2 separate regions of the Homo sapiens genome follow, and region 1 is linked to region 2. The links come from fine-mapping of genetic effects on plasma protein levels. A gene starts in region 2. The other region holds a variant in brackets. All regions are shown on one strand. Distances are from middle to middle. Region 1 overlaps TRIM58 (tripartite motif containing 58). Region 2 holds the start of TRIM58 (tripartite motif containing 58).

Evidence for each region. PIP is the posterior inclusion probability: the model's chance that the variant is causal. The UK Biobank Pharma Proteomics Project read protein levels with antibody pairs (Olink). The fine-mapping took linkage between variants from a reference panel, not from the people measured, so its PIPs are less certain.
Region 1: its variant is fine-mapped to the plasma level of the TRIM58 protein (UK Biobank, PIP above 0.99). The variant lies in the coding sequence of TRIM58. If it changes the protein, the assay may bind it differently, which can mimic a change of level.

The regions. Positions count from the first base shown.
Region 1 is chr1:247,872,359-247,877,697 of GRCh38, forward strand. It overlaps TRIM58 (tripartite motif containing 58), which reads left to right. Exons shown (of 6, transcript NM_015431.4): 6 at 3,542-5,339. The coding sequence ends at 4,131. Among named protein-coding and RNA genes, the nearest start is that of TRIM58, 18 kb to the left of the region's middle. The variant T/C (reference allele first, on the strand shown) is at 4,129.
Region 2 is chr1:247,854,712-247,860,090 of GRCh38, forward strand. It overlaps TRIM58 (tripartite motif containing 58), which reads left to right and starts at 2,476. Exons shown (of 6, transcript NM_015431.4): 1 at 2,476-2,955. The coding sequence starts at 2,536. RefSeq lists a cis regulatory region at 389-953.

The DNA.
Region 1 (5,339 bases), 18 kb after region 2:
GACAGATTTTTGTTATATACTGAAGGCAGAGCTGTTAAGATTTGCTGTTGGATTATATATGATGTGCTATAAACAGGAAGAGCCATGAATGATTCCAAGGTTTTGGATCTTGCGAACTGGCAAAATGTGATTGCCACTTATATTGATGAGGAAAGCGACAGTTGAAGCAGAAGAAGGGCACAGGGTTTTGGATATGTGGATGTTGCGATGAGTGCTAAATATTCAAATGTTGCTATCAAGTGGGCAGATGAATGTACAATAGGGAGTTTCAGGGTAAAGTTCAAAGCTAAGCACATGCATTGGGAATCAGTCAGCATATGAATGGAATTTTATCAAAGCAATGAACCAGCCAGCACCCGGGTAGATAGGGAGTGAGGTGAGAGAGAGAGAAGAAGTCCAAGTCTTGGGACTATAGGTTTCTCCAGTGGTGGTGGTGGAGGAGAAGAGAACAGCAAAGAGGATCAAGGAGTAGTGAGCAGTGAGGGAAGGGAAACATGGATGAGTGTTACCTTTGGAAAAGGGAGATTTTCCAGCACAAGTAGATTCTCAGTGTTGAGAGATACAGAAAAATCATTGAAGATGAACTCTGGGCCGGGCGCGGTGGCTCACGCCTGTAAATCCCTGCACTTTGGGAGGCCGAGGCGGGCAGATCACCTGAGGTCAGGAGTTCGAGACCAGCCTGATCAACCTGAGGAAACCTTGTCTCTACTAAAAATACAAAATTAGCCAGGCGTGGTGGTGCATGCCTGTAATCCCAGCTACTCGGGAGGCTGAGGCAGGAGAATCACTTGAACCCGGGAGATGGGGGTTGCAGTAAGCCAAGATCATGCCATTGAACTCCAGCCTGGGCAACAAGAGCAAAACTCCATCTTAAAAAAAAGACAAACTGACAAGTAACCATTCATCAACACGGAGGTCCCTGGGAAGATGGACATGCGCAGTTTGGTTGGGGTATGGTCACATCATGATGAAGAATTGAGTTTAGGAGAGAAGGGGTAGGGAGAGGAATGGGATACAGACCATATCAAAAGCCATTTCACAGATCTCTTTTGTTAGAAATGAAGCAGACCACTGTGCCGGAAGAGGAATGGCTTGGGAATACATGACCTGTTAGATTGTGTTAAATGCACAATCCATGGAGACCTACCTTTCAATCTCTGTTATTTACCTCTAGAGTTTGGGAAGACCACATAAACTCTTTGACTCTGAATCTACTCTTGTGTAATGTAGGGATGACAATGGTGACCCTCAGGGTGGTTACATAATAAAAATAATGCAATGCGCAGTTACGTGACCACTCAGGTTGGGTATCAATAAAAATTCACTAGACCGGGCGTGGCAGCTCACGCCTGTAATCCCAACATTTTGGGAGGCTGAGGCGGATGGATTGCTTGAACCCAGGAGTTCGAGACCAGCCTGGGCAACATGGCAAAACCCCTTCTCTACAAAAAAATACAGAAAACTAGCTGGGCATGGTGGTGTGTGCCTTCCCAGCTACTCAGAGGGCTGAGGTCAGGGGATGGCTTGAGTCTGAGAGGTGGAGGCTGCAGTGAGCTGTGATTGCACCACTGCACTCCAGACTGGGCAACAGAGCGAGACTCCGTTTCAAAAAAAAAAGTAGTTCACTGTAAGTGTTTAAAGGCAAATAAGTATAGTGGTAGTGGTAGTAGCAGTAGCAGTAGCAGTAGCAGTAGAAACAGTATTTGTTCTGATATTAAAAATCAAACTATATTAACATGTTAGTCTGATTTTGCATTGCTATAAAGAAATACCTGAGGCTGGGTAATTTATTAATATAAGGAAATATGCTTTATTTTGGCTCATGGTTCTGTAGGCTGTACAGGAGTCATGGTGCTGGCACCTGTTTCTGGTGAGGCCTCAGGACACCTACAGTCATGGTGGAAAGCAAAGGAGGAGCCAGCGTATCACATGGCAAGAGGGAAGCAGTGAAGTGGGGAGGCCCCAGGTTCCTCTTAAACGACCAGCTCTTGCATGAACGGATAAAGAACTCACTTATCACCAGTGGGATGGCACTAAGTCATTCATGGGGGATCTGCACCCATGATCCAGCACCCCCCACTAGGCCCCACCTTCAACATTGGGAATCACATTTCAACATGAGACCGGGAGGCGATACACATCCAAACCATATTATTTATTAACTTACTACTTATAAGCAATGCTAATAAGGAAATGCACTGAATATTTTACATCCCCCCTTCACTGAGGTTTCATATCTAGATGTATTTATTTATTATGTATATGGGTCAAATGTCTCATCAATCTCACTGGGACTTCAGAGTATCAGTATTTTTTATTGTTATATAACGCATAACTACAAGCTTATGTGCTTAAAGCCATACCATTTAGTAGCTCATGGTTCTGAAGACCAGACATCCAAGTGGGATCAGCTGGCTCCTCTGCTTAGGTTTTCTCAAGGCCCAAATATGGGTGTTGGCCAGGCCAGGCCAGGCTTCTGTGTAGGTCGGGGGAAGAACCTTACCTCCAACCTTATTCAGGTTGTTGGCATAATACAATTCTGTGCAAATGCGGTACTGAGATTCCTGTTTTCTTGCTGGCTGTTGGTTGGGGGCTATTCTCAGCTCTGGAGATCACTCTCAGCTCTAGAGGTCACTCGTTTGTCTCTTCATGTGACCTTTCCATTTTCAAAGCCAGCAAAGAGATATCAAATCCACATCTTATTGACCTTTCCTGCTGCCACCAACCCAATAGCCAGAGAAAACTTTCTGATTTTACAGGACTTGTGGGATTTGATTAGACGCACCTTGATAATCTCTCTCTTGTCATATAGTGTAACATACTCATGAGGCTAACACCAGGGTGTGAAGGTCATGGGGTCCATCTTAGAATTCCGCCTACCACAGTAATATAACTTTGGAAGTAGTGGATTTAATATTAATAAAATTCTATAGATTTTTAAGAAAAAAATTCCTAAGGGGTTTATAAATTTTATGTTAAATGCAGAAGATCCTCCTAAGTGCACTCAAATGCTTTGGATGTAAGCCAGACATGGTGGTGTGCACCTGTAGTCCCAGCTGCTGGGGAGGCAGACACGGGAGGATTGCTTGAGTCCAGGAGTTTGAGGCTGTAGTGTACCACGGCTATGCCCATGAATAGCTCTGCACTCCAGCCTGGGCAACATAGCAAGACCCCGTCTCTCTGTCTCTCTCTCTCTCTCTCACGCACACACACACACACAAATGCTTTAGATGTAAATGAAAGGAAACTAAATGATAATTCACTTGGTTTGTCGTCATCAATAGTTGTTTTTTTTTGGGAAAGTTAAAGAGTTCTGGGTTACGCAGAGGTAACAGTGGAATATACCAGAAAGTTATAAAGAATAAGAATAATAAAGTAATAAAGAAGATTTCACCTGTAAGGTGAAATACTGATTTGTTTTCTCTAGGAGTTAATAGAGAGAGAAAAGTGAGGAACTGTGGGACTATTCTTTTCAGTGGTTTCCTAAGTTTCTACCAGTCCTTTCTTTCCTTTCACCTGGTCCACCACATTCTTTCCGCAGTGGATGTAAAGCTGGATCCCGCCACGGCGCACCCGAGTCTGCTCTTGACCGCCGACCTGCGCAGTGTGCAGGATGGAGAACCATGGAGGGATGTCCCCAACAACCCTGAGCGATTTGACACATGGCCCTGCATCCTGGGTTTGCAGAGCTTCTCATCAGGGAGGCATTACTGGGAGGTTCTGGTGGGAGAAGGAGCAGAGTGGGGTTTAGGGGTCTGTCAAGACACACTGCCAAGAAAGGGGGAAACCACGCCATCTCCTGAGAATGGGGTCTGGGCCCTGTGGCTGCTGAAAGGGAATGAGTACATGGTCCTTGCCTCCCCATCAGTGCCTCTTCTCCAACTGGAAAGTCCTCGCTGCATTGGGATTTTCTTGGACTATGAAGCCGGTGAAATTTCATTCTACAATGTCACAGATGGATCTTATATCTACACATTCAACCAACTCTTCTCTGGTCTTCTTCGGCCTTACTTTTTCATCTGTGATGCAACTCCTCTTATCTTGCCACCCACAACAATAGCAGGGTCAGGAAATTGGGCATCCAGGGATCATTTAGATCCTGCTTCTGATGTAAGAGATGATCATCTC[T/C]AAAATTCTGTTCCCAAGATGCAGTCCTAGCGTAGCGAACGTTCCTGGAGTGGGGTGAAGGATATCAATATACTAAGTTTTAACAGATACCCCATTTAGGTCAGCACTTGATTCGTTGTTGCTGTGAAATATGTCCATGGGACAAAAGAGGGAATATGAAATATTTGCATATGGGAAGATTATAGAGCATAATAATTTTGTAAATGGAGCAATCTCAACCTCTATTTCTAGATCACATTTTCTTGATGTCTTCCTTCAAATTAATGACCTTGGATTACATAAGGATTTCTATGCATTCATTATAATTTGTTATTCCTTTCAATATCCTTGTATTTCAAATCTTCCATATAAGAATTAGACATGGCAATTCTTAAATTGATTCAGAATGGTCTGATACTATTCCAGTATCACCTCCTTAATTCTGTTTCTCCTCGTTTTCCTGATTTTCCTTCTCATTCTCTCCTTCCCCGCTCTGTCTCTCTCTCCCTGTCACTCTCTCTCTCTTGTTCCTTATTTTTTGTTTCTTACCTCTTACTGTTTAACCTGTTGCTTCCTTCTGGATTAATACATTTAGAGCCATTCCTTTATATGGTCACATTTCCTATGACTTTACTCAATTACTTTTAAAATCCTTTCTATTCTGAGACTAATTTTTAAGAATTACAAAGCTCATTCTTCTGAATCTAATATCACTAACTCCTAGACTTTTTCCGTTTTCTTTGGATACACTTTAAGTAGGAATTTATCAGAATTTTCATTCAACTCGTTCTTTAATGCAGATATTTACTAGTTATAAGACCTTAAGGCTGGGTGCAGTGGCTCACGCCTGTAATCCCAGCACTTTGGGAGGCTGAGGCGGGTGGATCACAAGCTCAGGAGTTCAAGACCAGCCTGGCCAACATGGTGAAACCCTGTCTCTACTAAAAAAAAAAAAAAAATAGAAAAATTAGCTGGGCATGGTGGCAGGAGCCTGTAATCCCAGCTATTCTGGAGGTGGAGACAGGAGAATTGCTTGAACCCTGGAGGCGGAGGTTGCAGTGAGCCAATATCTCACCACTGTACTCCAGCCCAGTGCGAGACTCCATCTCAAAAAAGAAAAAAGACCTCAAACAACACTTCTCTCTCTCTTTTAGCTGCTTGTTATGGTTCCTATACATGGAACAATTATACTGGCCTCACTGTGTTATGGTAAATATTTAAGGTCATATTTG
Region 2 (5,379 bases):
ACAGGGCGAAACTCTGTCTCTACAAAAAATACAAAAATTAGCTGGGCGTGGTGGCGGGCACCTGTAGTCGCAGGTACTTGGGAGGCTGAGGTGAGAAGATCACTTGAGCCTGAAAGGTAGAGGCTACAGTGAGTCAGGTTGTGGCACTACACTATAGCCTGGGCAGCAGAGCAAGACCCTGTCTCAATATATATACGTGTGTGTGTGTGTGTGTGTGTGTGTGTGTGTGTATTTCCAACATGCCAGGACCTATATTAAGTGTCTACTATCTATTAGCTCGTTTAATACTCTGAAAGGCCTTATATGAATGACACTAACACCTCTTCACTGCACGTCAGAAGAAATGCAGGGCAGAAACGCGGCACAGCTTGCCTCAAGCTTCTCAGCAAGTGCCACAGCCCTTAGTCCGGAGCCAGAGTCTGTTTTTCTTTGCTAAGCCTTCTGCTCTTTAGCTTTTTTCTCTAATGCCACATCTTTCGTGTTTTGCTAATACAGATCCATGTGTGTTCTCCAAGAATCTATTCGCTTTAATTGCGCACTTAACCTTTAGGCCTCAAGATCCTCTGCTCTGCCTGTCGCCAGAGATCCAGCCCAAGAGTTTGTCCTTATAATGAAGACCCACAAACCCCAGAGGATCCCCAAGGACCTGAGTCATCTGGCCCCGCCTCTTGCTGCAGCCTTATCTGCTGCCACCATATTCTGGCCCAGCTTGCCAGCCTGCCTGGCTTCTCACTGTCATCTGGGTATGTCTTGCTCCCACCTGCTGAAGTTTACCTTGTACCTTTCATGGCTTCTGGGGGCACGGCCTTGCGGAGCCCCCCTTCCCGCTGGCCAGCTTGTGTTCACCTATCAGAGGTTTGCTCAGAGACCTCAGGTGTCTGCCCCCGACCCTGCAGCCTCATTCAGAGTCCTCTGTTATATTCCTGCAGGACTGGTGAGCGACCTTCCTTGCAGTTATTGGTTTGTAATTATATGTTTGCATGATTTCATATCCACCTCTTCTAGTTGATCTTAAGGCTCCTGGAGAAATGGGGTCCCACCTCTTTTCCTTAACATGTGTATTTTCAGTACCCGGTGCAATGTCTGAGACTCCTGGCTACAAACAGACACAATGTGTGCTCAGGGACAGATTGATTTGCCACAGGTACACCCCACCATCACTTCAAACTCGACCATACTAAAGTTATTTTGCACAGATGCAGACACTGCCTCAGACTTGTCGACTTTCTGGACGACATTAGAGACTTTAATGTACTTTATCCTGATTCAGCCTTCCACTGGATGAAGTAACATACTCTGTCAAATCATTTTGCTCCTGTCTCAGCCTCCCCCATCTGACAGGTACACCACTGAGAGGCTAAGCTTGAATTATTCCTCTGATGAGTATCTCTATAGCTTTGTCATCTCCAAGACTGGCTTTGCAACAATCCTACAACATGTGTGTATTCCTTGTAGGATCCTCATTGAACTAGGCCAGATATTTATTTAAATATTTAGAATTATTTTTGGCTGGGCTGTAAACCTATAGTTACACACACCTATGCAGGCATCTTCCCGTGTCAGGCGGTGTCTCATTTCTTTATCAAGAGGTAATTAGTGCAAGAGAAAAAAATGAAGTTTGAAAAAAACATTTAAAAATTGATTATGCCATATAAAGGGGGAAAGCCTTTTAAGAAACGATTATGGCATGAGAGGACCATGGAGTAGCTCAGTAACAATGGAAGGGGCTCGGAGGGTGGAAGGCGGGCGAGGGATGAGAGATCACCTAATGAGAACAATTTACGCTATCACAGCGATGCCTGCGCTAAAGCCTAGACTTTATGCAGTGTCTCCATGTAACAAAACTGCACTGGTACCCCAGAAATCTGCACTAAATCTATATAATGATGATGGAGGCTGGGCGCGGTGGCTCGCGCCTGTAATCCCAGCACTCTGGGAGGTCGAGGCGGGCAGATCACCTGAGGTCACGAGTTCAAGACCAGGCTGACCAAAATGGTGAAACCCCGTCTCTACTAAAAATACAAAAATTAGCCGGGCATGGTGGCGGGCGCCTGTAATCCCTGCTGCTTGCGAGGCTGAGGCAGGAGAATCGCTTGAACCCGGGAGGCGGAGGCTGCAGTGAGCCGAGATCGCGCCACCGCACTCCAGCCTGGGCGACAGAGCGAGACTCCCTCTCAAAAAAACAAAAACAAAAACAAACAAACAAAGATGGAAGGAAGGAGGGAATTTAGCAATTCTCCAGATCTACTGCCAGTGAAAATAGCATATGAGGAGGGATTCCAGTTAGAAATGCCCAGTTTCCTGGGTGTGTGTGTGACGGGGGCGGGGAACCACAACGTTAATTTTATCCCCGACATAGGGAGCGCCTGAGTGGTGGCTTTTCACCGGGTGTGGCTCGTCTGAGCTCTTGAACTGAAGCCAGCGGACACCACCCGTCGGCGCCTGCTTTCCTGGGGCGTGGGCTCCTCCCCCTGTGCAGACCGCGAGGGGAGACGGTGCGGGCGGCCGGGAGCGCAGCCCTCCGGGAGGCGGGTCATGGCCTGGGCGCCGCCCGGGGAGCGGCTGCGCGAGGATGCGCGGTGCCCGGTGTGCCTGGATTTCCTGCAGGAGCCGGTCAGCGTGGACTGCGGCCACAGCTTCTGCCTCAGGTGCATCTCCGAGTTCTGCGAGAAGTCGGACGGCGCGCAGGGCGGCGTCTACGCCTGTCCGCAGTGCCGGGGCCCCTTCCGGCCCTCGGGCTTTCGCCCCAACCGGCAGCTGGCGGGCCTGGTGGAGAGCGTGCGGCGGCTGGGGTTGGGCGCGGGGCCCGGGGCGCGGCGATGCGCGCGGCACGGCGAGGACCTGAGCCGCTTCTGCGAGGAGGACGAGGCGGCGCTGTGCTGGGTGTGCGACGCCGGCCCCGAGCACAGGACGCACCGCACGGCGCCGCTGCAGGAGGCCGCCGGCAGCTACCAGGTGAGGCGCCCCCCGGCGGGGGCTGCGGGCGCTGCGGTGACCGGGAAGCGGGCGACAGTCCGGAGCGGAGCCGCCGAGGCCACCCGTCTCCTGAGCGGCTCCCACGGCCGCTCCCCCCACCGCGCGCCGTCCCCCCCGCCCACGCGGCTCACTCAGTGTGGGTCTCTTTGCCTTGGCTGTGGTAACCCCCTTTGCGACACACACCCATTATTTTACACCGTCCGCCCCTCCCCCAAGCACTCTCCTGTCGTCGAACTCGCGCTGGGCTGGTTTCTCCCGATGCGGATAGTCTGGTCCCTCAGCTGGGCTCTGGTCGGGAGGGCTGTGTGGTCCAGTTCATTCTTGGTAACAATTGTACGTCTATATCGTAAACTTGCCATAATAATTCTCATTTGTGCAATGCTTTGCTTTTGCACAGTGTTTACATTAAATGAGTGTTGTCAGCAAAGCAACCCTCGGGTTTGGGCGTTGTTAAGAAGAGTGTCGAGCTGGGTACGGGTTCCGACCCCTCCAAAGCTCAGGTGCACGTGCCTCCTGAAGTAGGAGCGGGTGGCTCTCCATCAGCAGGGATTTGGGGACTTAGGATTCGAACATCCTCAATGAAGAGGTGCTTCATTTGGGGTGTAGCCCGGGAAGCTTCAAAGAGAAAGAAGAAAAACAAAATGGGAGTATTTGGTCCCCAGAGTGGCATCTGTGAAATTGTGTGTCGATTTCTTCCTACTGGTGCCCTTCAAAAGTTCTTGGATGTTTTCTGAACACACTTGAATCCCAGCATGTAGAACAACTGCCAGCACAGAGGAGGTCTAAGTCGTCTTTACTGACAGATTTAACCAAAGGACTGTCAGTCGCGCTGTAGTGCATTGCAAATACTTTCTTAAAATTTTTATTTATTTATTTTGTTTGTTTTAAATTAAGGTTTAGGATATTTTCCCCTTCCTTCTCTACCAATATCTCTCTTGGTATTTCTTCTTGATTTTCGTTGTCATTTGCGAGATGTAGGTACTAGTACTAGGTAATTTCTAGCTAAACTTTTCTGGAATGTTCTTGCCTTTTTAAAAAAAGTCCAGAAAGAGGATTGGTAGTAACTTTTTTTTTTTTTTTTTTTTTTTTTTGAGACGGAGTCTAGTTCTGTAGCTCAGGCTGGAGGGCAGTGGCGCAATCTCGGCTCATTGCAACCTCCGTCTCCCGGGTCCTGGTGCAAGCAATTCTCCTGCCTCAGCCTCCCGGGTAGCTGGGATTACAGGTATGCGTCACCACACCCGGCTAATTTTTGTATTTTTAGTAGAGACGGGGTTTCACTGTGTTGGCCAGGCTGGTCTTGAACTCCTGACCTTGTGATCCATCCGCCGTGGCCTCCCAAAGTGCTGGTGTTACAGGCAGCCCAGCCTCTAGTGTAATATTTCTAAAGGTGTTCTCCATATTTTCAGTAGTTCTTCGGTTAAATACCAAATAAATATTATCTAAACTCCTGAGCCTCTCAGTGAAAGCTTTCTAGGGCCCTAAGTTATGTTTCCATAGCTCTCTTGTCTTAACCAGCCAGGAAACCCAGCAAATTTAGCCGAATCACTGTTTTCCTAACTGTGCTACATCTCCTTGCTTTTGCTGACAGTTTCTTTGGCCTGAGGGAGCTTTTCTTTATCTACAAGTGTCAAAGTGCTCCGTTCTTTGTAAACACCAAAACACATGCCACTTTCCCCACTGAGTCAAATGGTATCATGAATTCTACTGTTATTTTATATATAACAATTATAATATTCTCCTTTTAAAAACAATTGATGTGTATGTAGGATTTATTGAGTAACTTTGGGAATATAATTTTTTAATTAAAATCCTGTTTATGTATGTATCTTTGTGAGTATTTAAAATACACATATTTACCTCTAGTGAGCGCCCTATCATTGAAGGAAGATTTAGTTCTCATTGTATTTTTACTCATTGCAAGGTTTACAACATACTGTGTTTTTTCATATAAAATATGATAACCTACCAAGTTCCTTCTGACCTAATAATACTACTAATACTACAATAATAAACCCATGCTTTATCATAAAGTAACCAATAACTTCAAGAAGTTGAAGTTATATAGAGAAATACAGAATACAGTTATATAGAGAAATATATAAATATAGAGAAATGTATAAATATAGTTATATAGAGAAATATATGAAATATAGAGATATAATAGCATCACTCTTCATCCAAACACCAATAGATGACATTTTATCTAATATCATTCTCATTTACATCAGCCCAGTTTTAATATATTCATTACCAGCACATTTTTTTTCAAAATTCATGTTGTTTTGTAAAATATTTTTATTCATTGGACATTATCATTGTATTTCTAGTCATTAAACATTCTGTAACATCTTATTTTAATTCTATCCAGTTAATATAATTTTTTTCTCCCCTATCTTTAATGTT